Homo sapiens: one gene and its partners. The protein of the gene in region 6 purifies or fractionates together with the protein of the main gene of each other region. This does not show direct contact. Each region holds a gene or a part of one and is shown on either strand. Other genes may lie near its edges. The genes, in order: WDR82, FIP1L1, NUDT21, CAPZA2, CPSF1, ARHGAP11A and SF3A1.

Region 1 (4,461 bases), on a different chromosome or scaffold from region 6:
TGTGTAAATGGATCAGTTCATATCTGATCTTTTGTGCCTGGCTTCTTTTACTTAGCATGGTGTTCCCAAGGTTCCTCCATGTTGTCACATGAGGCAGTACTTTATTACTTTTTATTGCCAAATAATGTTCCAGTGTATAGATACAGCACATTTTGTTTGTCCATCCATTAGTTAATGGACCATTTGGGTTATTTCTACTTTTTGGCTGTTATGAATAGTGCAGATCTGAACATATGTGTACATTTTTGTGTGGACATATATTTTCAGTTATCTTGGGTAAATACCTAGGAGTGGAGTTTCTGGGTCACGTGGTAACTTTTTTTGGAAAAACTTTTCCAAAGCAACTGTACCATTTTTACATTTCCATTAGCAATGTATGAGGGTTCCAATTTCTCTGCATCCTCACCAACACTTGTTATCTCTCTTATTATAGCTATGCTAGAGGGTGTGGAGTAGTATTTCATTGTGGTTTTGATTTGCATTGGAATCATATATTTTTATTTTGTAGCTTTAAATTTTTTTTTTTATACTAGTTGCCTTTGTTTGTTCCAGATATGGTTGTGGTATGTGTGTTTTATTGTGTTTCTTAAAATGGCAATTTTGGGAGAACAGGTATATATATGTATAGATAGGCAGAGTGGTTTAGAATTCACATCCAATTTTTGCTAATATTTCGCATCAACTCCTATTTATCTCGATGTATTGCAGGGTGGTGGCCTTGTCCATGTCACCTGTGGATGACACTTTCATTTCTGGGTCTCTTGATAAGACCATTCGACTCTGGGATCTCCGGTCTCCTAACTGCCAGGTAATGGTACCTCACAGTTATACTTTTTGAGCATTTTCTTTGGTAGGCACTGTAATGAACTCTACCTCTCAAAGAAGGGAGAAAACAGTGGTTCCATTCTGGGATCACAGGGTCTTTTTAAACTTTGGAGAAAATCTGTTTTTTTAGTTGGTAGCTGCTAAGCACATACCCTAATCTAGTGCAGATTGCATTGTACTCTGTGGCTTAATTGTTGTGGGTTTTTTGTTGTTTTGTTTTGTTTTTGTTTTTGTTTTGAGACAGGGTTTCGCTCTTGTTGCCCAGGCTGGAGTGCAATGGTGCAATCTCAGCTCACCGCAACCTCCACCTCCAGGGTTCAAGCGATTCTTCTGCCTCAGCCTCCCAAGTAGCTGGGATTACAGTCATGCACCACCATGTCTGGCTAATTTTGTATTTTTAGTAGAGACGGGGTTTCTCCATGTTGGTCAGGCTAGTCTCCTGACCTCAGGTGATCCTCCTACCTTGGCCTCCCAAAGTTCTGGGATTATAGGCGTGAGCCACTGCGCCCAGCTGGCTTAATGTTTTTAAAAGTGTTCCTAGAGCTTTTAGCTTCAAGGGATTTATTTTTATTTGAATTCTGTGTCTGTAATATTGTGCAGTTAGAGTTGATCAGAAATTGTTGTCTGGAGACCTGTTTTTTAAAAGCTTCATTTTAGTTTTATGTTTTTTTTGTGTGTGTTCTGTAGGTAGGCTGATATTTGTTTGTATGCCTTTCTTAGTTTTAATTGGGAAAAGTAAATTATATAGTGGTAAGGTCCTGGATTCATTTTTTTTTCCCCATTGTACCAGCAGTCTTTGGTTATTCCACGTATGGTTGTGGCATGTGTGTTTTAGTGTATTTCTTATTTCTTTTCTCTTAGGGCCTCATGCATCTGCAGGGGAAGCCAGTTTGTTCTTTTGATCCAGAAGGGTTAATTTTCGCTGCAGGTGTCAACTCTGAAATGGTCAAGCTTTATGACCTTCGTTCTTTTGATAAGGTAAATCTTTGAATCTTTGAGATCTTTGAGCTGTTTTTTGTTTTGTTTTGTTTTTGAGACAGAGTTTTGCTCTTATTGCCCAGGCTGGAGTGCAGTGGTGTAATCTCAGCTCACTGCAACCTCTGCCTCCCAGGTTCAAGTGATTCTCCTGCCTCAGCCTCCCAAGTAGCTGGGATTACACGTGTCCGCCACCACGCCTGGCTAATTTTTTGTATTTAGTAGAGATGGGTTTCACCATGTTGGTCAGGCTGGTCTCAAACTCCTCACCTCTGGTGATCCACCCACCTCGGCCTCCCAAAGTGCTGGGATTACAGGCGTGAGCCACCGCGCCCGGCCCTGTAAGAGCCTTTTCTACAAAAGGAAAAATGTGGTAGATATTAGAGAGTGGCAGAGAAGTAGCTCATTCTCTGCTTTCCTTAGTCAAAAAGTAATCTAAAGGAATAGGATGGGAATTGGCTCTAGCAGAAGAAATTATTAATATGCCTGGGGCTACTGTTTTTTATCTTTTGCAGGGGCCATTTGCTACCTTTAAGATGCAGTATGATCGAACTTGTGAGTGGACAGGACTTAAATTCAGCAATGATGGCAAGCTCATCCTCATTTCCACCAACGGCAGCTTCATTCGTCTGATTGATGCATTCAAAGGAGTGGTGATGCACACATTTGGGGTGAGCTGACAGCCTTCAAGCATGGCTGTTTCCATGCTCATACTTCCTATGCTAAGAATTATGTTAGCTGGTTGGTGGAGACCAACAGTTACTCTTGACTTACTCATGAAGGCATGCACTTGTATTTTCTTCCTGCTCATGAACTTACCTCTCTTGGATTTCGTAGATGTTCATTTCTCACCAAGTGACCCAAGTTTGGTATTTAGATATAAAATAATTTCCTAACAATAAAGTTTTCTTGCCCCCTTGAGTATGCCTTGAATACAGAGTTGAGGGTGGGAGTGGATTGTCAACGATGGCAACCACATTTGGAAGCTTGGTGGTGTAGTACATGACAAGGAAAGGGTTTCATGGAAAGGAAGGTGATGCATGTGCTGAGTCAGTGTTTGTAGGCAGCTGTTTTTATTAATGGCTCTGTAAGAACAAAAGAACTGCTCTGTTTTGTTTTAGGGTTATGCCAACAGCAAAGCTGTCACACTGGAGGCTTCATTTACTCCAGACTCTCAGTTTATTATGATTGGTGAGTTTCCTTTTATCCCCTGTGGGGGTTATTTCTCTGGTACTATGCATTTCTTTGTTTAAATTATTAACTGAGACATTATTATCTATTTGATAGATGTTCTTAGATTTCTGTATAGCACATTATGCCAAGGACATAGTGTCTTTTAACTGCCCTGACTGGACCAAAATTTGAGTTAAACTCCACAAGCACTACCTTATTAGTAATGCTAATGTCCTGGTGTAACCCTACATTCAGTCATCTTAGTGGCTGCCTGTTGGTAGGGTAATGGTATTCGGCCCCTTTTTTAGATGAGAAAACTGAAGTTAGAACGGAAGTGACATGCCTGTGAACAAATAGCTAGGGTCAAGATAAATTTCCAAAGTGTCCTTCCTTCACTGCCTCTCCTCCCTCTCAATTTTGCCTGAGGGATGGGTCCTAAAGCTTGGCGTATCCTCAGATCTCAATCCATGTCTCATTTCCAGTTGTCTTTGTATTGCGCCTTGAGCTGTTACATTTTCCGTGAATATCCTCTTTAGGTTCAGAGGATGGCAAGATCCATGTCTGGAATGGAGAGAGCGGTATAAAAGTAGCTGTGTTGGATGGTAAACACACAGGCCCGATTACCTGTTTGCAATTCAACCCCAAGTTCATGACTTTTGCCAGTGCGTGTTCCAACATGGTATGTGAACAGTAAGAGGTATCTGCTACTCAGGGACCCTTCCCAGTTGGGGTGGTGGGTGCCTCAACAAGCACAGCAAGCTGTGTTCTACATAGGTACATTACAAGCATCCAAGTACATGTTTCTCAACTGGTGGTTTCCCTATTTCATCTCCTATTATTTGATCTCTGGCTGGGCTGGTCTTGCCTTTCATTTTTATTCTTCCTAGAGGTGATCAGGAATCATCTTTGAGTTCCAAGGAGATCATAGGCCAGTTTTTGCTCTGGACCCTAATTTTAGGTCCAAACTACCTGGGCTATGCTTGGCAATTTTTTTGCTCCTTAAAATACTCTGAACCGGCCTTTTGTGGTTTCAGTTTTCCATTCCTGTTGGTTTACGCCAAATTCCCAGAAATTTCTACAGTTGGTCATAACTCACCACTTAGAATTAACTCCAGGCCCTTATCTCTTCCTAGATAATACTAACAGAACAAAGGATCAGTGAGTCTCAGCTCCAGTTTTCCCTTGTGATCTCCTAAACCTGCCTGGGTATTCGGGGATGAGACATTTCATTACTAGCCTACCCGGAGCACATTGCCACCTTGCTTTTTTTTTTTAACCAAGAAAAAAATGTTAGAAAAAATACAGCAAAACCATCCAGTTCCTTACTTTTTACAGCCCAGGAAGGTGGGGGCCTGTTGGAGGTAACCTGGTGGATTAGCAATGAGGACAGGTTACTTATTCACCCACCTCCCAGGCAGCACTCCTTTTTTTCCCTTCCTTTAAAAAAAAGGGGGCGGGGGGTCTGCTTTGGTGGAAGGTGGACAGTGA
Region 2 (4,461 bases), on a different chromosome or scaffold from region 6:
GTTACATTTGCACTGTCACTTTTCTTTTCTACTTAAAAAAGAAAAATGTAAATTCAATAAAATGTTTAATTGTATCAAATAACTGTAGCTCCACAGCTAGAAATGCAAAAATTACAAAGTGGACCAAATATTACTACTGTCAAGCAGTACTATCGTCACCAACTTGAAATAATCATTTCATAGGCTGATTAATTCATGTAATGCTTACTGAGCACCAAACCATGTCAAGTATGGTTCTAGGCTGAGGAAAAAGTATGAGGAGCTGGACAATTACGGTTCCTGCCTTCACGATGTTTACATTTTAACAATCCAAATTCAGAAAAAGTGACTTAGCGGTATCTACATATGATGTACATGATTTTTCTACAAATGTACAAAAATCAAGGATTTTCTCTAAACTGTTCTCTTACAGGACCGTATAGAATAAAACAGTATTTTTATAAAAGGCTTAGCCACAAGTGTTCAATAAATGAGCTTCTTCGCTTTCCACCTAGCTACTTTCTATTCCCCATTCTGCCTTTTAAAACATCATTTTTCTTTTTTAAGCCACAAGCCTTTGTAGAGAAGCCTGTGTAGAGAAGCTTAGTGGTATGAAAAATTGCAGAGGCAAATTTGATATAATGTCCAATAGATCCCTATGAAGTCTCAGACCACTCTAAATGCTAGATCCTATACTTGGACTTTCTATAGGAACTCCAAAATAAACATGTCAAATGAATCTGTTTTGTGGGAGGTGGGAGCAGTAGCACCCACCTGTACCCAATTAACTGCTCTAGAAATCTTTAAGTCACTGAGCCCTTTATCTCCTCCTCCATCCACAACCAACCAGTTACCCATGTTATTTGTTTCTATTTATTCTTTGAGACAGGATCTTACTATATTGCCCAGGCTGGCCTGAAACTCCAAGGCTCAAGCAATCCTCCTACCTCAGCCTCCCAAGTCCATGGGACTACAGGTGTATACCACATGCCTGACTATATTTCTGTTTCTCTAATACTCAAATGTACTATTTTCCCATTCATCTCTCTACTACTGCTGCCTTAGTCTAGATTATCATCTCACCTGGACAACTACTTCACATCTATTAGTCAATGTCTCTCTATCTAACCCATCTCAACTACTGATGCTAGAGTTATCTTTTCAAATGATATGACCTGTCTAAAAACCTAATTAGGGGTGTCTAAGGGAGAGAATACAGTCATGAGTCCTTAGTTTCTGTTTCTGGTTAGGCCAGTAAAGCCCCTTTATCACCCCTCTTTTCCACTTATCACTGGAGACAGAAACTAAAAACCATGGCTTTGGGCAGCTAAAAGACTAAAACAAAGCAAAACAGAACAACAACAGCAACAAAATAAGGTGCATTGGACAAGCTTGCAAGGTCTACAAAGACATAGCAAAAGCATCCTAACTCCTTCCATAAGTGATTTCAACCATCTCTTTTCATCTACCTTATCCTCCAGCCATGTACTTCCTCCAAGGCACGCATCTAATATATTTATTGTTAGGCAGTGTCCTCCACCTAAAAACCACTGTCTCCCATCTCAAAAATTATTCAAACAAGTTCAAATGTTACCTCTGGGATCTTCTCTTCAACACCTGTAGGCTTTTAGCAACTCTCCTCTCAAACCTTTCGAATCACTTTGTACATGTTTCTATTCTAGCACTTATGTTGCACTGAAAATATTTACTCACATGTCTGGCATCCTCACTACCTCTGGAAAATAATAACTTCCTGTATTCTCATCAATTAATACATTCACAGATAAAAAATTGCTGCTTTCATGTAACTTTATCTAATTTGTTAACTCCATGAAATTTCATGGTGATTTTACCAAGGGTTCTTTTGTAGCATGGTAAATGTAAAAACAATAATAATAATGGAATGATCACAGATGGTTTGATAAAGGCACATTATCTTTGCTACTTAACACAGTGCCAGATAAATTATGTCTTTAAAAATTATTTATTGAGTACATAAATGGATCAATCTCACAGAGATAGGTAACAAACTACTTTCCAAGATAAATTATTTCTACTTTAAGAGTTGCTTTTCTTCATACCTTACTTACATATAAAATGAACTTGTAACAAAGGTATGTTACGCAAAAAAAAAAAAAAAATGCTATTTTGTATTTCCTAACAATTTACAATAAATCAATTCAGTCCTTGGACACAGTTTGTTCTTTAAATTTGCTTCTGAAAACGCTGTGCATAAGTAAATGTTTATCAAATTTCATTTTCTCACTGACTTTGTTTTCAAGGGATATACCTTGAAATATAGAGGTTAAACAACTTTACACTCTTCACAAATGCCTGTACTTTACTTTCGAAATGCATAAAATGAATAAAAAATAAATCAACTGATAAATGGGTAAACGCATAGAGGGATATGAGTTCAAGCAAACAAAGCAAAATGTAGATTGTATAATCTAGGTGATGGGTAAATGAGCATTCACATGTCAATTCCTTCAACTTTTGTGAGCATTTGAAAATTTTCATAATCAAATGTCTAAGGGGAAAAACCCTCAGAGACAACTGTAACTAAATAACATTCAGTTTATTTAGTCAATAACCATTTACTGCACACTTAACTGTATTTAAGGCAATGTGAGGAATAGAAAACTCCATAAATCACAGTTTCTTGTTTTTTTGAAGAGTTTTGAATTCAATGGTTTCTACTCTATAGAAATCTGAAGTGTGTAAAGGTAATAAATATGTATAAACATAATTACAATGCATAAAACTGAAAATTGCTATAAGAAATAAAGTTTAGTAAGGTACTATGGAAGTCCACGTATATTTAATATTTGAGTGCAATTTCTACCAAAAAAAGGTCCCATCCATAATCCAAAAAAATTGTCATTTGCTTCAAGTTGTTCTATAACTTGCAAATACAAATAATTTTACATAACATTTAATGAACATGCAATTATTACAATTTTATGTGTTCCTTTTGCATCATGCAGATAGTAAAGGCCTACTAGTACTACAGTATAAGCCCAACTTTCTCATTAAGTAATTATTTACTTTCCCAAATGAGAATGAGGAGCACATTTAGAATATCCACCCCTAACATGAAAAATCAGCCTCTTTACTCTGTTCCCTAAAAAGGTGCTAGGATTTTAAAATTACATGGGTAGTCATTATTATAATACAAAACTGACTATGACAATAACTGAATTGGCTTTAAGCTTCCTGAAATGACTTCTGAAAACAAATGACTCTACTAATAAAATATTTAACAATATTTTTGTATATACTGGTTGATTCCAGATGAGGTTGCTTAATGAACTATAGTGAAATTAATGTATTTTATGTTTCCAATGCATAAGCTATAATAACCACATTATACAGCCAATTTGAAAAACAAAACACATTGACTCTTATTCTCCTATCGTAACTAAATCACAATTCGTACTTCAATGTATTTCCCTTCCAATCTTTCTGTAAGATTCTTTATGCGCTCAATGAGTCAATGACAGTCCATTTACTTGGTCCAGTTTATAGAATACAAAATTGGAGACAAACATTGGCCTAAAAGGCCTAAGGGAGAATTAGAAACCTGAAAACACTATTAAGAACAAAAAGAAATACTTTTGATATTGTTTTTATTAGGCAAAAAAATTAAAAACCTAAACTCAGGTCTGGATAATAAAGTGAAATAATAATAAGTACAGATACAAATTACAATTTAAGGATTTCTAATTCTAATCAAAGAATTTATAGTACTTTTTTTTTTTCTTTTTCTCGAGACAGAGTCTCACTCTGTTACCCAGGCTGGAGTACAGTGGCTCGATCTGGGTTCACCGCAACCTCCACCTCCCAGGTTCAAGTGATTCTCCTGCCTTAGTCTCTGGAGTAGCTGGGATTACAGGTGCCCACCACCATGCCTGGCTAATTATTGTATTTTTAGTAGAGATAAGGTTTCACCATGCTGGTCAGGCTGGTCTTGAACTCCTGACCTCAGGTGATTCACCCGCCTCGGCCTCCCAAAGTCCTGGGATTACAGGCATGAACCTCTATGCCTGGCCTAGCACTCAATTCTTTTATAAAAACACTTTAAATTCAGCATCAAAAACTGCTGCTTCTATGTACCTTCGCCTAATCAATTAACTGTATTTTAGCAAAGAAGTATATTCATGATGAAACTTTAACAAGTTCTTTTATGTTAAAATAGAAAAATGTAAAAACAATGGACTCAACCACTGAGAGTTTGATATAGGCACACTCTCCTTACTATATAGCATTTACACAATTGTTACTTACTAAAAAATAACTTACCCATACTGTGGTGCTCCCGTTTTAATGTCTCCTATAGTGACATGAACATCATCTTCATCATCATCGCTGTCACTATCACTATCATCTTCGGTCTCAGTCACTTTCTACATGAACATAAACAAATTATAAAATACATTCAGTAATCCATTTCAACATCTAATACTAATAACTAAAAAAAGT
Region 3 (3,500 bases), on a different chromosome or scaffold from region 6:
GGATGCTAAGGAATTAAGTCATTCTTCTGAAAAATGTTAAGTAAAGGAATAGCAGCATATTTTTTTTTTCTACACAAACCACACACTTCAGTAATACATAAGTTTCTTTTTATATGAGGATCACAACCCTTATGAATTCATAGACCAGGAAATGATCATCAATGAGCTGCTAACATTACAACAAGAAACAACCAAATATTTTTAAATTCCTGATGGAAGTACACTATACCAATTGTGATAGACTGCCTTAAGATGACCCCCAATGATTCCTGTCTCCTGGTATTCACTGCTTTGTGTAGTCCCTCCTATAGCGTACCAGGGTTGGCTTGTGTGACCAATAGCACACAGCAGAAGTGATGGTATGCCACTGCCAAGATTAGGTTATCACAGACTGAGGCTTCCTACTTGGGCACTCCTCTAGCACTCTGTCTCTCACTATCTCTTGGATCACACAGCCTTGGGTAAGCCAGCTGCCTGAGAGTTGTCCTTTTAGAGATGTTCTCATGGCAAGGAACTGAGGGAGACCTTGAGACAACAGCCAGCAACACCTGAAGCAAAGCTTTAGTCTAACAGCCCAGATGAAACTAAGAAGTTTGCTAACACACACACGTGTAAGCTCGGGATCAGATACTTTAACCCCAGTTCCACCTTATGATGCAGTCCCAGCTGACAACTTGACTGTAACTTCATGACAGAGCCTAAGCCAGAACCACCCTAAGCAACTCCCAGAGGCCTAAAGGCTGCTAAATTTTGAGGTAATTTGTTATGCAGGTATAGATTATATACCGCCTATGACAAGCCTTGTTACCCCTCCCCAAATTAACTGAGCCTGAATACAATTTCTAGATCTAACTATCAATTTGCAAGACACACAGGGGAAACAGCTACATATTCAACAACAACAGGGGAATGCAATCGAAATGGAAACATTAGCCTGTTTTCATTAACAAATAAAACACAAGGAAAAAAAAAAGGTGCCAAGTGTGTAAAAGAGACTTTAGAGACTATCCTAATCCAAACAAATTATAAAAAGAAAATAGAAATAATCAGGATACGCGAACAGTGACTATATATTTGACAATAATATGGAATTGTTTATTTTTAGTATGATAATAACAGTACTATAGTTATCTTTTTAAAGAGATCCTTATTTTTATGATTCACACTGAAATATTTACAATTGAAATGAATAGCTAGGATACACTTCAAAATAATCCAAGATGAGGGTAGGAGAATGAAGCGGTGGAATGAGGGGTTGTGATGTGCTAACTGTTAAAGGCAGACGACGGGTAGCGCAATTCATTCACTTTTACCATTCTCTCTTCTTTTGTATTTGTTCTATTTATTTATTTATTTTTTGAGAAGGAGTCTCACTGTTGTCCAGGCTGGAGTGCAATGGCACAATCTCGGTTCACTGCAACTTCTGCCTCCCAGGTTCAAGCAATTCTCCTGCCTCAGCCTCCGGAGTAGCTGGGATTACAGGCTTGTACCATCAAACCCAGCTGATTTTTACATTTTTTAGTAGAGACGAGCTTTCACCATGTTGGCCAGGCTGGTCTCAAACTCCTGACCTCAACAGGTGATCCACCCGCCTCGGCCTCCTGAAGTGCTGGGATTACAGGCATGAGCCACCTCGCCCGGCCTTGTATTTGTTTTACATTTTCCTTTAAAATAAGAAGTGCTTGGCTTAATTTTGTAATTTAAATTAAGGAGGGAAGAAAAGAAAATTTCAAGTCAAATTCTACTTTAATCTTTTTTAAAGTGGCTAGAATTAAACGAGCTTTCTGCTTCCAAAATGCCCAGCAAATGTAACTGAACACTGACCTGAGGAGGTTCAAAATTTGGTCTCCACCAGTTACCAATGCAATCGTCAATGACCCAGTCTTGCAAAACTCCATCCTGACGACCCAGTATCTGTCAAAAAGAAATAAGCCAGTAAACAACTAAATATATGTACTCACAAATCCCCTTCTTCAGTGAACAGAAAATTCTTAGCAGTGCTCCTAATTGAAACATAGGGATAATATGCCTTCCATACAGATTTTCTATGATTTGTTAATATAGATGTCACTCTGCCCAAGACATACAATATTAGTTCAAAACTGGCAAGCTAGTATCAACATAAAAATTGTGTTCAAAATTCAGCTTTCATTTTTATTAATTTGTATAGCAGAACACTAAACTTATTTTAACCAAAGTCATACTCTACATATTTTAAGTGGCCAAAAATAGTTCTACAATGTTCATGGTGAGAAACTGCAGTTCTCTGTCCTGCTTCACCCATTCCCACTGGCTGTAACTTTCAACTCTTGGTTGTTTTTCCCCTCATGTTTTCTTCTATTTTTAAAAGCATTCTTCTTGGTCTTAAATAAACGGTTTATTTTAGGATAGTTTTAGATTTACAGAAAACTTGCAAAACTTGTTCAGAGACTTCTCATATACCCCACACAGTTTCCCCGACTGTTAACATCTCACACTAGTAAAGCACATTTGTCAAACTAATCAACCAATACCAAGACAAGATTATTAACTGAAGTCCATATATTATTCAGATATCCATAGTCTTTAACCTAATGTCCTTTTTCATTTTTCAGTCCCAGGATCCCATCTAAGATACCATATTACACTTAATCTTCATTTCTTCCGAGGTTCCTCTACATTGTGACAGCTTTTCATACCTTCCTTGTGTTTGATGATCTTGATAGCTTTGAGGAATACTGGTCAAGTATTTTGTAAAACATCCCTCAATTAAATTGAAGTTATGAGCTTTTGGGAAGAAAACTACAGAGGTAAAAGGGCCATTCTCATCACGTCATATCAAAGGTACATGCTATATCAATATGGCTTATCACTAATGGGCTGAGGTACTGTTTATCACGTTTCTTCAATGTAAAGTCATATTTTTCAAAAAAAAAATTTTTTTTTGAGACGGAGTTTTGCTCATTGCCCAGGCTGGAGTGCAATGGCGCAATATCGGCTCACTGCAACCTCCACCTCCCAGGTTCAAGTGATTCTCCTGTCTCAGCCTCCGGAGTAGGTGGGATTACAGGCACATGCTACCATGCCCAGCTAATTTTTTGTCTTTTTAGTAGAGATGGGGTTTCACCCTGTTGGTCAGGCTGGTCTCGAACTCCTGACCTCAGATGATCTGCCCACCTCACTCTCCCAAAGTGCTGGGCTTACAGGCATGAGCCACTGCACCGGGCCTCAAAACTACATTTTTTAAGAGATAGGGTCTTGCTCTGTCACTCAGGCTGGAGCACAGCGACGCAATCATGGCTCACTACAACTCCTGGCCTCAAGCAATCTTCCGGCCTCAGCCCCACAAAGCACTGGGATTACAGGTGTGAGCCACCATGCCCAGCCAAAATATTCTTTTATGACAGTTTCTTGATTTTCATTTTATTTTATTTTATTTTTTTGAGACAGAGTCTCGCTCTGTTGCCCAGGCTGGAGTGCAGTGCCGCAATCTTGGCTCACTGCAACCTCCACCACCCAGG
Region 4 (4,461 bases), on a different chromosome or scaffold from region 6:
TGGGATTACAGATGCCTGGCTTGAAGTATAGTTCTTTGTATTAACTACTTAGATTTTACTGAGACTATTGTGCCATGATATTATCACTATGGAAAAATCATATCAAAGCATATAAAATACATTTTTTTCCAGAAAGTGAAAGCCATTAAGTTAAGTGATACAATGCTCATAGTGATGGCTTAGGAAAAATTACCCTTGTAAAGTGAAATAGTGAGAATAGAAAATTCAATGACAAGTTGGGCACCATGTGAACCTGTAGTTCCAGCTACTTGGGAACCGGAGGCAGGAGGATCACTTGAGCCCTGGAATTTGAGACCGGCCTGGGCAACACAGCAAGACTCTGTCTCTAAACAGAAAATAAAACTCAAGGACAGACATTTTCTTCATTTTATATATGTTAAAGCTCAAAGGAATTAGATTTTAAAAAGACAAATTAGTAAGCTTATTGTAACAGCTCCAATGTATTATAAAGAAGAACGTAGTAAAAAGAATTTTCTTCTAATAGTAGCTCCATCTCAACAAGATTGATTTTATTATGTGTTTCCTGGCATAAATAACATAAATTAGTAATAATTTTATAAATATTGTTTCAGGATTCTAGATTAATGCTACAAGATTTTAGACCCAACACAGAGAAACTACACTTATATTAAGTCCATAAAAGTAACTCTATATGACAGAACCTTTAGGGAACTGTGGCTAGTCATTAAGGCATACATTCACATATGGCATTGATTTTCCTTCAGTGATGATGGATCTGCATTCCTCCAAATATTCTTGGTTAACCTTGCAACCCTGCATTTATTTCTGAGATGGCTAAGCAGTGGAGCAACCTTGGGCCATGAACCCAACTGGCCCACAGGGGTTACCTGTTACTTTACCCTTAATAGCACCACCAACCAACTTGGCTAGTAAGTCAAAGGCTAATATACTAAAAGGTAAATATTATGACCATACTTATTCTGGTGACCTCAGCATGTAAAACAGGGATAAACGTAAAGATTTCATTCAATTATGGACTTGTAAAGTCTTAAAGAACCTCAGAATTTTGTAACAGGTACTCAGAAATAGTCTTGTCTAAGAATAAAAATGACCAACAACTTGTCAAAGGTCCAAGACCAGTATGGTAAATCAGTGCTCCTGAGGGCTTGAAGTTTATAAGGAATAATGGAATTATTTGTACACAAAATTACAAGGCATGAATGTAATCTTCCTCATTGTATAAAACATGTCATTATTTCCTCACATTGGCTAACCAAGTACAAAGCAATCCTCTACTTCAGAGTCACAAAGTTCACAAAAGTAGTATCATTTTTTGTTCTATAATTATCTTTGTTCTCCTGCACATAAGTTTCATTCAGGAACAGCCCCTTCACAGAATGAGCATATGGATTGCCAACTGGTGTTCTCGCAGGCACACATGCTCCCTCAGGATGCTGTTTGCTAGTCCCATACTCTTTCCACTGAATGTCAACAGATTTACCACTACCTTTAGTGATTAGGCTGTTGAGCAAATTTACCTTCCTTATATCAAAAGGCTAAAATTTTATACCATCTCTAAATTGTTCTTAATCATAAACAAACAAGGTGTAGCCCAAATCACTAAAGCAAGAACTACAAAGACTTAAAACAATGCCAAAACTCCCCAATATCCAAAATTTTAACTTACCAAAAATTTTTTGCTTGGAACTGATGGCTTTCTATGCATGCAATAATGGTTTGCTGTCCATCTATTTTTTTGCCATACACCTTATTGGCAAAGAAAATAAGCATAAGAATGAATTTAGGGCCATGGAATGTCCAACTTTAAAAATCTATAAAATACTGCAAATTGTACAGTACTTTGACAAGAACACATAAAATACAAAGTAGGCCATCATTCCAATATAGTAGCTAGAAAAACATGTTCTCAAATATTTATGCGTAATCAAATTATTAGTGGACCACAAAAGGGGACACTAAATAAAATACAATTCATTAAAATTAATTGTACTCTGAAATATTCACGAACATTCTAGATAATCTACTTTCATAAGTAGATAATTTATTTTAAACATACAGATGCTAATCTAGCTTTTTCCATGCAAGTGAAAACTGGACCTAGCTTGTGATTATCACCTTTGTTCACTTCACAATCTTAGGGGCTGCTGTTTCTTTAGTCACTTAAAAGTACTGGAATAAATTAACTTACTTATAAGTGAGAAAGGTCGTTAAGAGAATGCCTGTGATGTATCACAATGCTATTTCACCTCTTGCCTACTGCTTTAAAAATAATAATTAATTTGTGCCTTTCAATCCTCTAGAATAAATGAGGACTCTCTAACAAGTACTCCCTTAACTCTCGTTATTCCTCCAAAATAATCCTGATGAACAAGTTATAATTCAAGTAATACATAAGATATTTGAGGTTATGTTGCAATATTTCTCAAATAATCAGAGAGCTAGATACTTAAGCAGACCATATGAATTTTTGTCCTAACCAGGAAACTTCCAAGAAAGAAATGGGGTACGCTACTGGTGATATTAATAATTACATTGAGAAAGCAGGTATAAACTAGGATATATGGTAGAGTTAGGTTGGAGGGGTAAGCAGAGGCCACGTGGTCACAGGGCCTTTAAGCCACCTTCAAAAGCCTGGACTCTTAAGTCCAGGCAACGGGAAATCTCTGAAGGATTTCAAGCAGGGAATTTTAATGACCTGATTTGCATTTCAAAAGATCACTCTGGCAATGGAAAAGGCCACTGAAGCACAAACTGGGGGTGCTAAAAAAGCCTGTCAGGGTACAAATAATATTATGAAATTTTTAAAAAAGAAATGTATTCCTACTACCATATTTTGTATTTCTTTTTTTTCTTTTCTTTTTTTTTTTTTTGAGACAGAGTCTCACTCTGTTGACTGGGCTGGAGTGGAGTGGCGCAATCTCGGCTCACTGCAACCTCTGCCTCCTGGGTTCAAGCAATTCTGCCTCAGCCTCCCGAGTAGCTGGGACTACAGGCACGTGCTACCACGCCCGGCTAATTGTTTTTTTTTTTTTTTTTTTTAAGTAGAGACAGGGTTTCACCATGCTGGCCAGGCAGGTCTCGAACTCCTGATCTCAGGTGATCCACCTGCCTCGGCCTCCCAAAGTGCTGGGATTACAGGCGTGAGCCACTGTGCCCAGCCATATATTTCTTGAAAATATAAAAATAGGTTGAACCTACGAAAGAACCACACAAAAAACACAAGAAATGTAACTGTAAAATACAGAAACACATAATTTTACTTCCAAGTAATTTTATTTGTTCTAAGATTTCTGTGACTTAATAAAAATAACTTTGATCTAAACTGAGACGAGTCATGAACATAAGATTACAGAATCTCACCATATCCTGCTCCTTTAATCAATGTATTAGAATTTCTACATGGATTTAAATCAAGGTACAACCATTTCTCTATTTTAAGCCATCCTAGTATATCTATTTATTATCCAGAATTTCTTGAAAAAATAGTAAACATTCTTAGAAATATTTAAGGAAAAAAATGACAAATTATACAATGTCAATTCTGTAAGTTACTGTAAATTTTAAGAGACGCTAAAGACTCACATTTACACAAAACACACACACAAAGCTGCTACTGATGACTTACAGTGCAGACTCCATTCGGGTAATGTTCTTTTACGTAAGCTCTCAGAGCAGTTTCTACTGAAGTTCTCCATGATTCAACTGCATTTTCTACTTCACAGGGTCTTGGATCAGTTGCCTCCTTCCTTAAGTGATCAAATTTAAAACAGATTCTGTTCTTTGGATCCAAAAACTTTCCATTTCCCAAGTCGCCATGTTCTGTTATCAATACCTTTGATGATGGAATGAATTTAGAAAAAAAATAAAAAAACAGCATTTCAATATTGATACATCATAATTACACTCATTTAAGCTTCTTCCTTAAAACTATAAAACAATCCTACTCCAAGCATATATTTTAACCATATGGTACAACTATTAATACTTCAAATGAGTTGACTATACAGACAATGACATTACTCTCATCCAGTGCAGATCAGATTTTCTCCCAATATAACTTCCAGCTACTGGTGAAAAAAAATGCAACCTCTAAAAACACTGTTCAAGTGGGTTTGGTGGGTTTTCTGCTTTGAGAACTCTAACAGTTTACAATGTCTGGTATCAGACTCCAGTTCCTCAAAACTACAGAACTTGTGAGAACCTCCAATCAGGGTGGTTACCTGAATGGCTTTGGTCTGGTGCAAATCCTCTTTGGTGTGTCCCCCACCTTGCCTCTGGGCCCACAGTCTTACCTACTTTGACGTATCTGTTTCTTGCTTCTTAAAAACTACATTGACAACTGATTTTAATTGACTTCCAAGTATTTAAAAACATACTTCATTTCCATAAATTTAAATAATACATCCACAATGCATAATGTATAATCTGATATTTTGTGCTTTATTTAAAAAATTTCCC
Region 5 (4,461 bases), on a different chromosome or scaffold from region 6:
ACTCCAACCTGGGAGACAGTGAGGCCCTATGTCAAAAAACAAAGGCCTGGCGTGGTGGCTCATGCCTGTAATCCCAGCGCTTTGAGAGGCCGAGGTGAGTGTATCGCTTGAGGTCAGGGGTTGAAGACCAGCCTGGCCATGGCAAAACCCTGTCTGTACTAAAAATACAAAAATTAGCTGGACGTGGTGGTGGGCGCCTATAATCCCAGCTACTGAGGAGGCTGAGACAGGAGAATCGCTTGAACCTGGAAGGCAGAGGTTGCAGTGAGCCAAAATCACACCATTGCACTCCAGCCTGGGCAACAAAGTGAGACTCCATCTCAAAAAAAAAAAAAAAATTTTCCTCCTATTTTTGCTTTACTAGGAGTTTTTATCACGAATGCCTTTATCAGATGCTTTTTTTGTATCCACTAAAATGACATGATTTTTCTCCTTAATTTTGACAGCATGGTAAGTTTAGCGATGGCTGTTCTTGCGGAAATCTAGTTTTGCGTTCCTGGAATAACTCAACCCAGTTGTGTTACAATACCCCTGCTTGTCACTGGGCTCATCTGCAGGCGTTTTGAGGAGGTTGGTGTCACTTCCTGTCCCACCTGTCTGTGGGCTGTTGGGGTGGCCTGAGCCACCTGCGGTGCCGTCAGCCCCACATGAGTGGGTGTGTGTTTTTTTTTTAAGTGTGTCATTACTTCTGAAACCTTTGGTAGAATTTGCGGGTGAAGCCCTGGAGTTGCCCTTGTCGCTGTGAGATGGGTATTGGTTTGTGGATGCTTCTTCTGTATCTCTTAACCAGCTTCCAAGATGCCCTCCCCATAGCACAAGTCCATCGTGAAAAATGACCTTGAGGTGGCTCACGCCTGTAATCCCAGCACTTTGGGAGGCTAAGGTGGGCGGATCACCTGAGGTCAGGAGTTCGAGACCAGCCTGGCCAACATGGTGAAACCCTGTCTCTACTAAAAATACAAAAATTAGCCGGACATGGTGGCACGCACCTGTAATCCCAGCTACTTGGGAGGCTGAGGCAGAATCACTTGAACCCGGGAGGCAGAGGTTGCAGTGAGCCAAGATCACGCCACTGCACTTCAGCCTGGGTGACAGAGTGAGACTCCGTCTCAAAAACAAAAAACAAAAAACAAAAAAAAACAAAACAAAAACCACTTTTCCCTTGCCTTGAGGCAATGGCATATAAATCTGCTAGCTAGTTAAACTAGCTACCTAGTAGCAAAGAACACACAGCCTCTTATCATTCTGGGAGGGCAGTGAAAAGGGAGGAGATAGAGAGGCAGCCTGGGGGAGCCCGAGGCGTCAGGATAGCGCAGGGCTTCCTCTTCTCTAACAGGCACGCAGATCAGTAGCTACAGATACCCCTTGGCTCTGGCTTCCTGCCCTGTGACATTTGGACCCAGGGGCCGGGGCTGGGCTGCTGTAGGTGTGCAACCAGGCAGGTTTGGGGGTGTGCAGACACAGAGTGCACTCTAACCCTGAGTGCTTGCCGCACAGGGCCTGGCTGCTAGGGAGCCGTGAGGTAGGGGCTTCCTGGGGAGGGGCCTGTGCCAGGGCTGGGCCGTGGGCATGAGAGCGTGAATGGGGGTCGCTGTGGGGGGCTGTGCACAGCTGTCTCCAGAAGCCCTTCTCCCTGCTGCAGAGAGGGTTTGGGCAGAGCTCCCAGGAGGCAGGGGCCAGGCTTGGTGGTCTTTTCTCGTTCCCCGGATGAGGTGAGCTGCCAGATGTGGCCCCTCACTGCCCTGTCTTTCTCTCCCCTCCAGGCTCTGACCAAGAATGACAGGAGCACAGGTGAGTGTGGTGGGGCGGCCTGGGGCTGTGCGGGTGCCAGGCATGGCTGGGCCCTGACCCTGAGCCCTGGTGTCTCCCCTAGAGGGGAAGGCCCACCGGGAGAAGCTCGAGCTTGCTGCCTCCTTCTCCTTCTTTGGCAACGTCATGTCCATGGCCAGCGTGCAGCTGGCAGGAGCCAAGCGGGATGCCCTGCTCCTAAGCTTCAAGGATGCCAAGGTGAGTGGTAGGCTTGGTGGGGTAGGCCTGGCCAAGGCGTGGGAGTGGGTGCCAGGGCCTGGGTACAGCCGTTGGTTGCCGGGGGCGACACTGTCAGGACCGGCAGTCGGCAGCCACGGCTGTGCCCTCTGACCGCAGCTGTCTGTGGTGGAGTACGACCCGGGCACCCATGACCTGAAGACCCTGTCACTGCACTACTTTGAGGAGCCTGAGCTTCGGGTAGGGCCGCGCTCCCGCCCCCGCCCAGGCCCCGCCCAGCCACCCTCCCTCCCCCTGCAGCTGGGTTCTGTGGCCCCAAGTGTTTCCCTCGGGGTCTCCTATGCTGGGCCTGGCTGATGCCCCCTCTGCCCCCAGGACGGGTTTGTGCAGAATGTACACACGCCGCGAGTGCGGGTGGACCCCGACGGGCGCTGTGCAGCCATGCTTGTCTACGGCACGCGGCTGGTGGTCCTGCCCTTCCGCAGGGAGAGCCTGGCTGAGGAGCACGAGGGGCTCGTGGGTGAGGGGTGAGTGCCAGCTGAGGCAGGCTGTGGTGCTGGGGTGGGAGGCGCCAGAGCCCGAGCTCCCCTCCCCGCCTCCCCTCCTCTCCTGCTGAAGCCCCTGGCCCCCCAGGCAGAGGTCCAGCTTCCTGCCCAGCTACATCATCGACGTGCGGGCCCTAGACGAGAAGCTGCTCAACATCATCGACCTGCAGTTCCTGCATGGCTACTACGAGCCTACCCTCCTCATCCTGTTTGAGCCCAACCAGACCTGGCCTGGGTGAGCCCCCTAAGGAGGCCCCTCTGCACTGTGGGCCCCCTAGCTGCCTCTGCCTGGGGTGGGGCCCATGGGGTTTAGGGCGGGGCCTATGGGGTGTGGTGGGGCTTGCTCGGGAGGAGCTGGGCCTGGGTCTCTGCGGGGAGGCAAGGCCCTTGGCTGACCCACTGGCGTCCCCAGGCGCGTGGCCGTGCGGCAGGACACGTGCTCCATTGTGGCCATCTCACTGAACATCACGCAGAAGGTGCACCCCGTCATCTGGTCCCTCACCAGCCTGCCCTTTGACTGCACCCAGGCTCTGGCTGTGCCCAAGCCCATAGGTGTGTGTCCTGGGAGTGGATAGGGGAGTGTGTGGAGAGAGCACTGAGCCTGCCCACCAGCCTGTGTCCACCTCCAGGTGGGGTGGTGGTGTTTGCCGTCAACTCGCTGTTGTACCTGAACCAGAGCGTCCCCCCGTATGGCGTGGCTCTCAACAGCCTCACCACAGGAACCACGGCTTTCCCGCTTCGTGAGTGTGGGGTGGCTGGGGCGGGGGGGGCCCGGGGACGGCTTGGGCCTGCCTAGTCGGCCTGACCACCCACCCCACAGGCACCCAGGAGGGTGTGCGGATCACCCTGGACTGCGCCCAGGCCACCTTCATCTCCTACGACAAGATGGTCATCTCCCTCAAGGGCGGCGAGATGTGAGCCCCTCCCCCGCCCATGAACTCTGCCCACACCGCCCCCCACAAGTCCTGTAGGGTCCCCTGGCCCCCTTCACTCCCCCAGGGTCCCCATCCCCGACTCAGAATTCTCCCTGCCCCCAGCTACGTGCTGACCCTCATCACCGACGGCATGCGCAGTGTCCGAGCGTTCCACTTTGACAAGGCGGCCGCCAGCGTCCTCACCACCAGCGTGAGTTGGGACTAGGGGTTGGGTCTGGGTCCAGACCCGGCCCAGCCATCACACACCTGCCCTCCCTCAGATGGTCACCATGGAGCCCGGGTACCTGTTCCTGGGTTCTCGCCTGGGCAATTCCCTCCTCCTCAAGTACACGGAGAAGCTGCAGGAGCCCCCGGCCAGTGCTGTCCGTGAGGCTGCCGACAAGGTGGGTTTCCTGGGCCCATTGGGCCACCACCCTTCATGTGGGCACTGCTGTGGCATGCCACTCAGTGCCCCTCCTGCCTCACAGGAAGAGCCTCCCTCAAAGAAGAAGCGAGTGGATGCGACGGCCGGCTGGTCAGGTGAGGGCCGGTCCAGGGCTGGTCAGGAGCGGGGCCAGGTGACCCAGGGCTGCGCTCAAGTGGGCTCTCTGTGTGCAGCTGCGGGTAAGTCGGTGCCGCAGGATGAGGTGGACGAGATTGAAGTGTACGGCAGCGAGGCCCAGTCGGGAACACAGCTGGCCACCTACTCCTTTGAGGTGAGATTGAGGCAGCAGGGCCCCCGTCCCAGCCAGCGCCCCCAGCGGGCCCCTGACTCTTGCTGTGCCGCAGGTGTGTGACAGCATCCTGAACATTGGACCCTGTGCCAATGCCGCCGTGGGCGAGCCTGCCTTCCTCTCTGAAGAGGTGCCCAGGGTTGGGGTCGGGGCTGGGGGCAGGGGCTGGAGTGTGAGGGGGGGTGGGGGGCATAGTCCTCACCCCCGAGTCCTGTGCAGTTTCAGAACAGCCCCGAGCCGGACCTGGAGATTGTGGTTTGCTCCGGCCACGGGAAGAACGGG
Region 6 (4,461 bases):
TATTTAGTCAGTATCTAGTACATAATACCAATTAATGGTATTATAAAAAATAAGCTATTGGCAAACAAGTTGGAATCTGAGTATTTGAGATATACCTGCTGGCCAACTGCTACCCACCTGACTCCGGAATGTAATTTGTTCAATATTTTTGGCAAGTAAACAAAAACTAATTATTCTATAACACATTCCTAATCCCTTGGCTGCTGCTGTGTTCCATGCAAATAATTACTGGTACAACAGAAGCTCAATTATTTAACACCATTTATATTATGAAATCAACTATAGTAAACAATTACGAAAGAAGTAAAATAGTTATGAACAAAGGCTCCATATACATTTATGTTTGAATCACGCCCAGGACACATTCAACAAACATGAACCCTCTCAATTCATCTGAGTTATTAATAAAGAATTCACAAAGTTTCCCAGAGACATTCACATTTTTTCAATTATGAAAACGGAAAAAATACAACCACCTTAGAAACTTTTGGGTGCATTTAGCTAAAGAAAATTTTGGAAGCCAATATTATACATCTAAAGTGACATAAGTAGCTTTATTCTAGGGCTGCAGTCTAGTCACTTTAAAAATGTGTCCGGCCAGGCACCGTGACTCACGTCTGTAATCCCAGTATTTTGGGAGGCTGAGGTGGGCGGATTGCTTGAGGCCAGGAGTTCAAACCAGCCTGGCCAACATGGTGAAATCCCATCTCTACTAAAAATACAAAAATTAGCTGGGTGTGGTGGTGCATGCCTGTAATCCCAACTACTCAGGAGGCTGAGGCACAAGAATCACTTGAACATCGGAGGTGGATGTTGTAGTGAGCCAAGATCATGCCACTGTACTCCAGCCTGGGAGACAGAGCGAGACTCCGTCTCAAAAAATAAAAATAAAAAATGTGTCAATGGTCGCAGGAGGCACAGTCAGAATATATGGAACAATGCAAATTTATCACATCTGTAAGAAAATTATGGCCAGGCATGGTGGCTCACACCTGTAATCCCAGCACTTTGGAAGACCAAGGCAGGTTGATCAGCTAATGTCGGGAGTTCAAGACCAGCCTGGCCAACGTGGTGAAACCCCGTCTCTACTAAAAATGCAAAAGAAAATTAGCCAGGTGTGGTGGTGGCCACCTATAATCCCAGCTACCTGGGAGGCTGAGGCAGGAAAATCGCTTGAACCTGAGAGGTGGTGGCTGCAGTGAGCCGAGATTGTGCCATTGCACTCTAGCCTGGGCAACAAGAGCAAAACTCTGTCTCAAAAAAAAAAAAAAGAGACAATTATGAATAGATACTCTATGGACTACAGACTAATGTTGCCTTTATATATTTTTAAAAGCATCATATTTGTTATAATCTAAACTTAGAAATCAATCTATTTTCAATTTTGCAAATGGAATTTGTTGAATTGTGGCTGAGAAAGTAGGGTCAAAGAAAAGTGGTGTAAAAATAATACGATTACTATTGTTGAACTTTTAAATTTTTTTATAAAAAAATTCATTGATTAGGCAAGCTCAAACTAAAAATAGCACAAGACTGTTTAACCTCTGTTTTGGGAGCTTGGAGGAGGAGAAGAAGGAATCAGTATGTTCATTCCTTGGGGAAAATGTAATGCTAATAAGCAAAGGCAGGTAGAACTACAACTCCCATTTGCCATTTGGAAAAAGTCCTCCAAACTGCAAAGGATATATTCAAAAAAAAAAACAACTGAACTATGTTACTTAAAAAAGTTTAAGTCTCCAACCTGTGAACACTGCAAAAGCTACAGACATAAGCTTCAGAGTTACTATCATCACATTTCAATGAGCCCTAGAGAACCTGTGAAGAAGTGTTTTTTTCTGGAAAACCTCAAGTTGCTATTCTGTTCAACTTCTCAATAAAACAAATAAGAACCCTTTTGGACAACAGAAAAAAGAGACAGGCTTTGGGAAGGAACTCATATAACTCAGATAATGAATCAAAAATGAAACTTAACATTGTCTGAAACCAACAAAATAAAAAATCTAAAATAATCAGAGATCACTCACATTTTGACTAAATGTAAGATAAATGAGATGGAGGACCCTGGGCTTAGAGTTTCATTTCATTTTTGGTTGATCGTAAGGTTAATATGAGCCAACTTGAATTCTGTATATGCTAAAAGAGCCAATTGAATCTAAGACCCAGACTAATCTCCGGATTAGCATGATCATACTCTATTACTCTCTGAAGGCTCTGGTTGGCCACATTAGAACTTGTAGTTAATATGGAAGAAAATGGCTGGGCTGGTAAGGGATCTGGAAGCCATGGCACAAGGAACAGCGTCAACAAAGTTCTAAAGCTTTTACAAAAGGTACTTGAGTCTAAAACTTTAAAAATACCCTCATTTTCAAACCATAACCTGCAATAGTAACGCTCCCACTTGGGAATCAGACATGATCAAACATCTGGCAACCTCAATTCAACAAATGACAGCAATAAAGCCACAGCTATAGACCCAGATGTAACTATAGCAGGATTCAGGATGTCTAATCACATAAAACCTAAGCATCAATGCTATCACCAGAAGCCCAAACTACTACTCTGGGTTATCACAACTTTCAATAGATGTTGTCATAACACACACACACACACACACACACACACACACACTATATTGAAACAGTGTCTATTTTAAAAGGCAGGGGGTTTTATAAAAATTCATAGGTTGGATAAAACAGAATAAAGTTCTAGTTCCTAAGGGTGGTATTATTAATATGAAATTGCACTGTGCCCAGAATAGGCACTCATTTTAATCTTTACAATCCATTTATATAAATTCTATTTGCTACCTGATACCGGTGTAGAACTGCTATTGAAGAGATTACTTGGCAACAGCTCAAAGTTAAAATTGTGCTTGATGGACTTCCTTTTCTTACTTGAGAAACCATGAGAAGAATCTACTGGCAATGTACGCTTAGCATTTGGTGTAAGAATCACTGGTGATTCAGATAGCTGGGCTGAAAAAATATCAAAACAAAACCAACTTGTTTCTACTGCAGAGTTGACAACATATAAAAGCTTTACATAATTTCTTCTTATAAAGCTATTACTTAGAGCTAAACAAAAAATGAGAATATATTTACATCATCAGTTAAGTAGATGTTGTTTAACTAAAACACTCTGCAATTACTTAAATGAAAATAAGGAAGTCGCAGAGGCAAGACTCTTAAGAGACAGCAGTTACTTAAATCTAACAGACTAAAAGATGCATATGATATACATTAAAGAATATTAATGTAAGGAAGAAATTACAATCAAGGAGTTGAAACAAAAACTAATCTAAATATTATTTTTGCTTTTCATCATAAGTGAGTATTAACCAGTTCATTTCTTCACTCTAGAAAACAGAAGATCATGTTGACTCTTACTGGCTGAATAATTTCAGCCACAAGCAAATTAGAATAAAAAATTGAAATATACAATAATGAACTTCTAGTCCTAAGATAAAAATGAGGTTGAACTATTTTCACACGCTTAATAGCATCTAAATTACAAACAGAAAAGCATGATTAAGAAGATTAAAGACAGGAGACTAAAAAAATTTTTGCCTACAATTTTGGGTTCATTATAGCCTATGTAATTAGCAATGTCACAACATAGTGTGTATAGTACAGTATGACTATTAAAAATAATATTTGATTTGATTAAACTAAATTTGATTACTAAGTTAGGTAATTATTATTGTAATTGTATTTTATAGAATACTATACAAATTTTAATTTAAATAAATGCATATAATAAATACCTACCAATTCTTTCTTCTTGAGGTGTAATAGAAGGTGTTCTGTTAGGTTTAAATTTATTTAGTGCTCCACTAACAAAATCTGAAATGCAAGGCATAAGCAATTACAACTTCACATTTACTTGTCTTTCACCAATAATTCATATTAATATTTGCAGTCTTCTTTCAACATGTAACTTTACATCGGCTTATAAATTTTAAGTTATTTAAGAGGAATTATTTCAAAATAGGAAAAATACTAAAGGATATATTTTTATTCCATTCCCCACTTATACTTCCATATCCCTAAAATAAAAAAGACACAATACAGAAAGAAATGTAATACAAATACATATAATGTACAGTAAGGGTAGGGAAAAAGAAATCATTACATGTTAAGGCAAAAGATGAAGGTCTGAACTGAGGCAAGAACCATGGAAATGGAGGCACGAATAAAAGTATTTAAAAGATCAGTAGAGATGGAAGTAAAAACATTATATCAATAAATAGTGTAAGCAAATGAATAAAAGTGTCTGGAAAATAAATAACATAGTTTGACTAAAGTTGCTCAAAGACAGGAAATAGTAGACAGGTATGCTAGAGCAATCCTATGAAAGACCTTTAATGCCAAGCTATAAATATCCCTATTACCAATTAAAATTTCTGAAGGGTATGTGTGTGAGATACTTGAGTAGAGTTATACATTTAAAATGTAAGCCTTG
Region 7 (4,461 bases), on a different chromosome or scaffold from region 6:
TGTCACCTGTGCATCTGGGCTCCTGGATTCTGGCCTGATTCACCACTGATAACCCCTTGTGAGGTTGTACAAGTCACCCCCCTTTGCAAGATTAGGTTTCTTTTCTTTAAAACAATCTCTATCTTGTCTCTTGGTGAGTCTGGAGCTAAACTGAAGAACTTTAGTGAAAATACTCTGCACACCCCAAGGGAAAAGAATATGACCTGCAGGGTCGGAAGACCTGGATTCCCAACTCAGCTTCCCAGCTAACAAGGTTTGTCTGAGCCTCAATGTCATTATCCACCAGACAGGGTTCATGACTGTTTTGAGTATTGAGGGGAAGTGTCTGTAAAGTGCTTAGCTCTATCCTGGTACTTAAGCGTTTAAGAAATGGGAACTATTATTAAAAAACAAACAGAGCGGGTGCAGTGGCTCACACCTGTAATCCCAGCACTTTGGGAGGCCAGCGTGGTGGATCACTTACGGCCAGGAGTTCAAGACAAGCCTGGCCAACGTGGCGAAACCCCATCTCTACTAAAATACTAAAAATACAAAAATTAGCTGGGTGTGTGGTGCACACCTGTAATCCCAGCTACTCCGGAGGTTGAGGCATAACAATCACTTGAACCCGGGAGGCAGAGGTTGCAAAAACAAAACGAAACAATTTGGTCAAATACATTGGGGGAGCAGAGGCCGGGGCTGTTTCTGTCTCCTTACTGCAGCCTGACAGCTTCCCTAGTGATTAGCAGTGACAAGGTCCCCACCTCCCCTTATTCCAGGACCCCAACAGGATCCCACCCAACAGGCAGACCTCCTAAGGGCTAGAGCTGGGGAGGAAGGCCACAGTAAATTTTAAAACACCACACACAATTTCCTCCAGGTGTCTAGGGTCCCTCTCACACGTGAGTTGTGCTGCCCGTGCTGCTGGGTCTCCCTGTTGGCCTCTGTAAGTCTACACCAGAGGGACCACCACAGTCACCACCTCTGCCACCACTACCATCACCATCACCACCAATGCTCTCTGCTCCTCCAATTGTTGGCCCCACATTCACTGTGTGCTCAGAAGCCCTTAGATGCCTCCAACAGCTGACCTAGGCCCCAGAAGCCAAGACTGGGAGTGAAATAGGGTCAGTTTCGCAAGTGTACGACAGGGGCGGGACTGAACCCTCCAGCTAGAAACTTCAGCAGCATTCTGGGATTACATACCTTGTTTCTGCGCAGGAACTCCTCCTCTGGCATGAGGCTGTCCTCTGTCTTCAGTTTTTTGGAGGTGGGCTCATCTTCCATGGGAGGTGGGGGATGCACAGGGGGCATTGGGGCTGGAGCTGGGACAGGTGCCACAGGTGGAGCAGGCACAAAGGCTGCAAAGACAAGAATAAGCAGCCCCATGAGAGGGCAGAAGGGGCCCAGGACTCAGGGCTGATGAGAAGTTGAGAGGGAAGGTTGCAAAGGTTTCCTCTAGTCAGAGGTGTCAAGTGCTGTTCCCTGCTAAGTCTGGCAGCCAGCAGGTTCCCTGGCAAGGGGACCTGGGAGGCTGCCCAGATTGGACAGCAGAGGACTGCAGGAGGGGCAGGACTGATGGATGGAGCTAGTGCCAAGCAACAAGCATTTCTCAGGCCTCTGAGCCTGTTGGGGACCTGATCCCTGAATGCACAGACACTGGCTACACCATTTCAGCCTCTCATTTCTACCAGGAACGGTGGCTCCCAGCTCTAGGGTTGCGGATCTTTCAATGGGAAGCCAGGGCTCTCCTCTGGGCTGGATACCCTGCTGGAACAGCTGGCACTAGCATCAGCCACTGCTCTGCTGACAGTACTTGGCCCGTGGTCCCTGAACTAATGGCCTGGAAAATGATGCAAGAGATACTGACCTGTTGGCACAATCATGGGGGGTGGGCGGGGGGCCATAATAGGAGGGGCCGAGGGAGGCATGGGCACCACGTTGATTCTGGGCGCGTGGATGATGGGCGGCATGGGGGCGATCACTGAGCCTGGGGGCAGCCGGACCACAGATGCCATTGGGGGCCGGGGCATGACGGGTACTGCGGAGACAACTGTAGTACGAACTGGAGGTGGCATCTGTGCAGGAAAGAGACCCACAGATTACAGGAAGCCAAAGTTGGACTCCAAGGTCACACACAGTTGGCAACTGGCTGCCTGCAGCTCTGAGGATGGAGGTTAGACAACTACGTCCTGGCCCCCTGGGACTGAGAAACTGTGGCCTACACTGGGCGTCCAATAGGAACTGAGCTGCTGAGAGCCCGAGGATGACACTCTCTCTACTTGGGACTTGGCGGGTCAAACTCGACCTGCTACTTTGGCAAACACTGAAAGAGTCACTAAAGAGGCTGAGACCTTGGCCAGGCACAGTGGCTCATGCCTGTAATCTCAGCACTTTGGGAAGCTAAGGCAGGCAGATCACCGGAGGTCGGGAGTTCGAGACCAGCCTGACCAACACGGAGAAACCTCATCTCTACTAAAAATACAAAATTAGCTGGGCATGGTGGCGCATCCCTGTAATCCCAGCTACTTGGGAGGCTGAGGCACGAGAATCACTTGAACTCGGGAGGCGGAGGTTGCGGTGAGCCAAGATCATGCCATTGCACTCCAGCCTGGGCGACAAGAGCAAAACTTCATCTCAAAAAAAAAAAAAAAAGAGGCCGAGACCTCGACTAAGTCTCTCCTGGAGACAAGCCAACAGTCCTCAAAGACCCAATAAGCCCTGCAGCCCTTCTCTGACGCCAACTGGTTTCTCATATTTGCCACTTACCTCCCTCCCTGTTCCAACCCTCCTCCACAAACAGATCAAGAGAGAGGTTCCCACTTGCATTTAAAGGGCTCTTTCTCTTTCAAACTGACCCACCCAACACTCAGGCCCCACTAAAAGGCAGCTGCACTTCTCAGCCAACAGTGTCCGACCTCAAGAATGAAGCTCTAAAAAAGTCAGTTCCAGGGTAGATGCTGGCTTACTGTGGGTGGTCGGGGCACTGAAGTGATGGGTGGAGCCGAGCTGGGGATGTTGGTGGCTGAAGATGGTGGCGGTGGCTGTTGAGGGATTTCATTGGGCTTGCTGGGGCCAATCTTCTCTTTAGTGTCATCCTCTGGCACCAGGCCTTTGGCCTTGTGAATGGCCTCAATCTGCTCCTGGAGGGTGATGTTGGCCTGGGCAGCCTGCTGGGTCCGGGCCATGCTGCCTGAGTGGCCATCCCAGGTCACCTGCAAGTGAAAGCAAAGCCACAATGCTTCTGGAACTAAGACCAAGTATGGAAGACGGGGGGCAGAGAAGGCACTAGGTTCCACTTTAGCCGCACCTTTTCCTCTGGCTTCTGGATCTCCTCCTCACCGATCTTCTTACCAATGGCTGTTTCCTCTACACCGAAGATGTCAGTACGCCGCTCAGCCAACTGCTTCAAGCTGCTCTCAATATCCAGACCTGTACAGTCACAAAACAGAGGCAGAGGATAGAAAGAGAAAATAAACCAGGTGTCCTGACAAGAGAGCAGCTTTTCTGGTGTGCAGGGAGGAGGCTGGTTCCATGGGATGAGGGTGACTCAGGGCCCCAACTCTTGTCCTCTGGGCTCGGGGAAAGCTGCCCGATCTAAGCCTATAAACCCAGTGCTTGGGCAACCCCTCTGACTTAGAAAAGAACGGTAGGCCAGGCACAGTGGCTCATGCTTGTAATCCCAGCACTTTGGGGGGCCAAGGCAGGAGGATCACATCTGAGGTCAGGAGTTCGAGACCAGCATGGCCAACATAGCGAAACCCCGTCTCTACTGAAAATACAAAAATTAGCCGGGTGTGGTGGTGCGTGCCTGTAATCCCAGCTACTTGGGAGGCTGAGGCAGAAGAACTGCTTGAACGTGAGAGGCGGAAGTTGCAGTAGCCAACATGGAGCCACTGCACTCCAGCCTGGGAGACAGAGTGAAACTCCGTCATTCATAAATAAAACACATAAATAAATAAGATGGTGAGTTAGAGAGGGCAACTGTGTGGAAAGGGCCACATGGTGTAAGTGGCAGAGTCAAAACTAGAAGCCCAGTCTCCCACCTGTGGCACAGTTCCTGCCCCATTCCAAAGAGCTCATGGTACTCCAGCCATCAATGCTCTCCTTCTAAACAGCCACAGGAAGCCCTTCCAGCTAAAGCCAGAGCTTGCTCTGGGATGTCAACAGGCACATGGCATCTCCTTCAGTGTCTGCCTTTGGGGAATTTCTATGGGGAGTTCTTCTGGAAAGTGGGGAGTTCTCTTGCAATATCATAGAGTGCAACTCTCCTCAAAAGCTTTTGTTGACCTCAATTGTTGCTTTCTATGTTTGCTTAGAAGAAGATGGCTGTAATTCGGAGACTACCATGGGCTCTCCTGGAACCCCCACCTCACCTGGTGCGTACACCTCATCATCGCTCTGCTTCTCACGGATGGAGCGATCCCGCTGCTCCAGCCAGCGAGGGTCAAGAAGTCCAATGCGCATGTGTTCCTGCATTTT

What was found.
Region 1: the proteins of ARHGAP11A (region 6) and WDR82 purify together in Homo sapiens (affinity purification with mass spectrometry; one large-scale study listed by BioGRID and IntAct). This does not show direct contact.
Region 2: the proteins of ARHGAP11A (region 6) and FIP1L1 purify together in Homo sapiens (affinity purification with mass spectrometry, with the first as the bait; one large-scale study listed by BioGRID). This does not show direct contact.
Region 3: the proteins of ARHGAP11A (region 6) and NUDT21 purify together in Homo sapiens (affinity purification with mass spectrometry, with the first as the bait; one large-scale study listed by BioGRID). This does not show direct contact.
Region 4: the proteins of ARHGAP11A (region 6) and CAPZA2 purify together in Homo sapiens (affinity purification with mass spectrometry; 2 studies listed by BioGRID and IntAct, with this or other methods). This does not show direct contact.
Region 5: the proteins of ARHGAP11A (region 6) and CPSF1 purify together in Homo sapiens (affinity purification with mass spectrometry; one large-scale study listed by BioGRID and IntAct). This does not show direct contact.
Region 7: the proteins of ARHGAP11A (region 6) and SF3A1 purify together in Homo sapiens (affinity purification with mass spectrometry, with the first as the bait; one large-scale study listed by BioGRID). This does not show direct contact.

Annotation. Positions count from the first base shown.
Region 1 is NC_000003.12:52,257,727-52,262,187, reverse strand, and holds part of WDR82 (WD repeat-containing protein 82), read left to right. Parts: intron 1-708; coding exon 709-808; intron 809-1,686; coding exon 1,687-1,803; intron 1,804-2,315; coding exon 2,316-2,471; intron 2,472-2,921; coding exon 2,922-2,991; intron 2,992-3,509; coding exon 3,510-3,652; intron 3,653-4,461. UniProt on the Homo sapiens protein: Regulatory component of the SET1/COMPASS complex implicated in the tethering of this complex to transcriptional start sites of active genes.
Region 2 is NC_000004.12:53,383,697-53,388,157, reverse strand, and holds part of FIP1L1 (pre-mRNA 3'-end-processing factor FIP1), read right to left. Parts: intron 4,386-4,461; coding exon 4,282-4,385; intron 1-4,281.
Region 3 is NC_000016.10:56,437,833-56,441,332, forward strand, and holds part of NUDT21 (cleavage and polyadenylation specificity factor subunit 5), read right to left. Parts: intron 1,915-3,500; coding exon 1,825-1,914; intron 1-1,824. UniProt on the Homo sapiens protein: Component of the cleavage factor Im (CFIm) complex that functions as an activator of the pre-mRNA 3'-end cleavage and polyadenylation processing required for the maturation of pre-mRNA into functional mRNAs.
Region 4 is NC_000007.14:116,903,551-116,908,011, reverse strand, and holds part of CAPZA2 (F-actin-capping protein subunit alpha-2), read right to left. Parts: intron 3,836-4,461; coding exon 3,629-3,835; intron 1,750-3,628; coding exon 1,670-1,749; intron 1-1,669. UniProt on the Homo sapiens protein: F-actin-capping proteins bind in a Ca(2+)-independent manner to the fast growing ends of actin filaments (barbed end) thereby blocking the exchange of subunits at these ends.
Region 5 is NC_000008.11:144,398,976-144,403,436, reverse strand, and holds part of CPSF1 (cleavage and polyadenylation specificity factor subunit 1), read left to right. Parts: intron 1-446; exon of another isoform or gene 447-570; intron 571-1,322; exon of another isoform or gene 1,323-1,522; intron 1,523-1,763; coding exon 1,764-1,791; intron 1,792-1,873; coding exon 1,874-2,007; intron 2,008-2,145; coding exon 2,146-2,226; intron 2,227-2,361; coding exon 2,362-2,513; intron 2,514-2,619; coding exon 2,620-2,766; intron 2,767-2,943; coding exon 2,944-3,083; intron 3,084-3,091; exon of another isoform or gene 3,092-3,160; coding exon 3,161-3,271; exon of another isoform or gene 3,272-3,351; coding exon 3,352-3,445; intron 3,446-3,568; coding exon 3,569-3,656; intron 3,657-3,726; coding exon 3,727-3,849; intron 3,850-3,933; coding exon 3,934-3,985; intron 3,986-4,063; coding exon 4,064-4,161; intron 4,162-4,234; coding exon 4,235-4,309; intron 4,310-4,398; coding exon 4,399-4,461. UniProt on the Homo sapiens protein: Component of the cleavage and polyadenylation specificity factor (CPSF) complex that plays a key role in pre-mRNA 3'-end formation, recognizing the AAUAAA signal sequence and interacting with poly(A) polymerase and other factors to bring about cleavage and poly(A) addition.
Region 6 is NC_000015.10:32,628,109-32,632,569, reverse strand, and holds part of ARHGAP11A (rho GTPase-activating protein 11A), read right to left. Parts: intron 3,843-4,461; coding exon 3,768-3,842; intron 2,976-3,767; coding exon 2,808-2,975; intron 1-2,807. Other genes in the region: ARHGAP11A-SCG5 protein, read right to left, coding at 2,808-2,975, 3,768-3,842. UniProt on the Homo sapiens protein: GTPase activator for the Rho-type GTPases by converting them to an inactive GDP-bound state.
Region 7 is NC_000022.11:30,335,841-30,340,301, forward strand, and holds part of SF3A1 (splicing factor 3A subunit 1), read right to left. Parts: coding exon 4,356-4,461; intron 3,412-4,355; coding exon 3,290-3,411; intron 3,195-3,289; coding exon 2,949-3,194; intron 2,058-2,948; coding exon 1,850-2,057; intron 1,341-1,849; coding exon 1,186-1,340; intron 1-1,185. UniProt on the Homo sapiens protein: Component of the 17S U2 SnRNP complex of the spliceosome, a large ribonucleoprotein complex that removes introns from transcribed pre-mRNAs.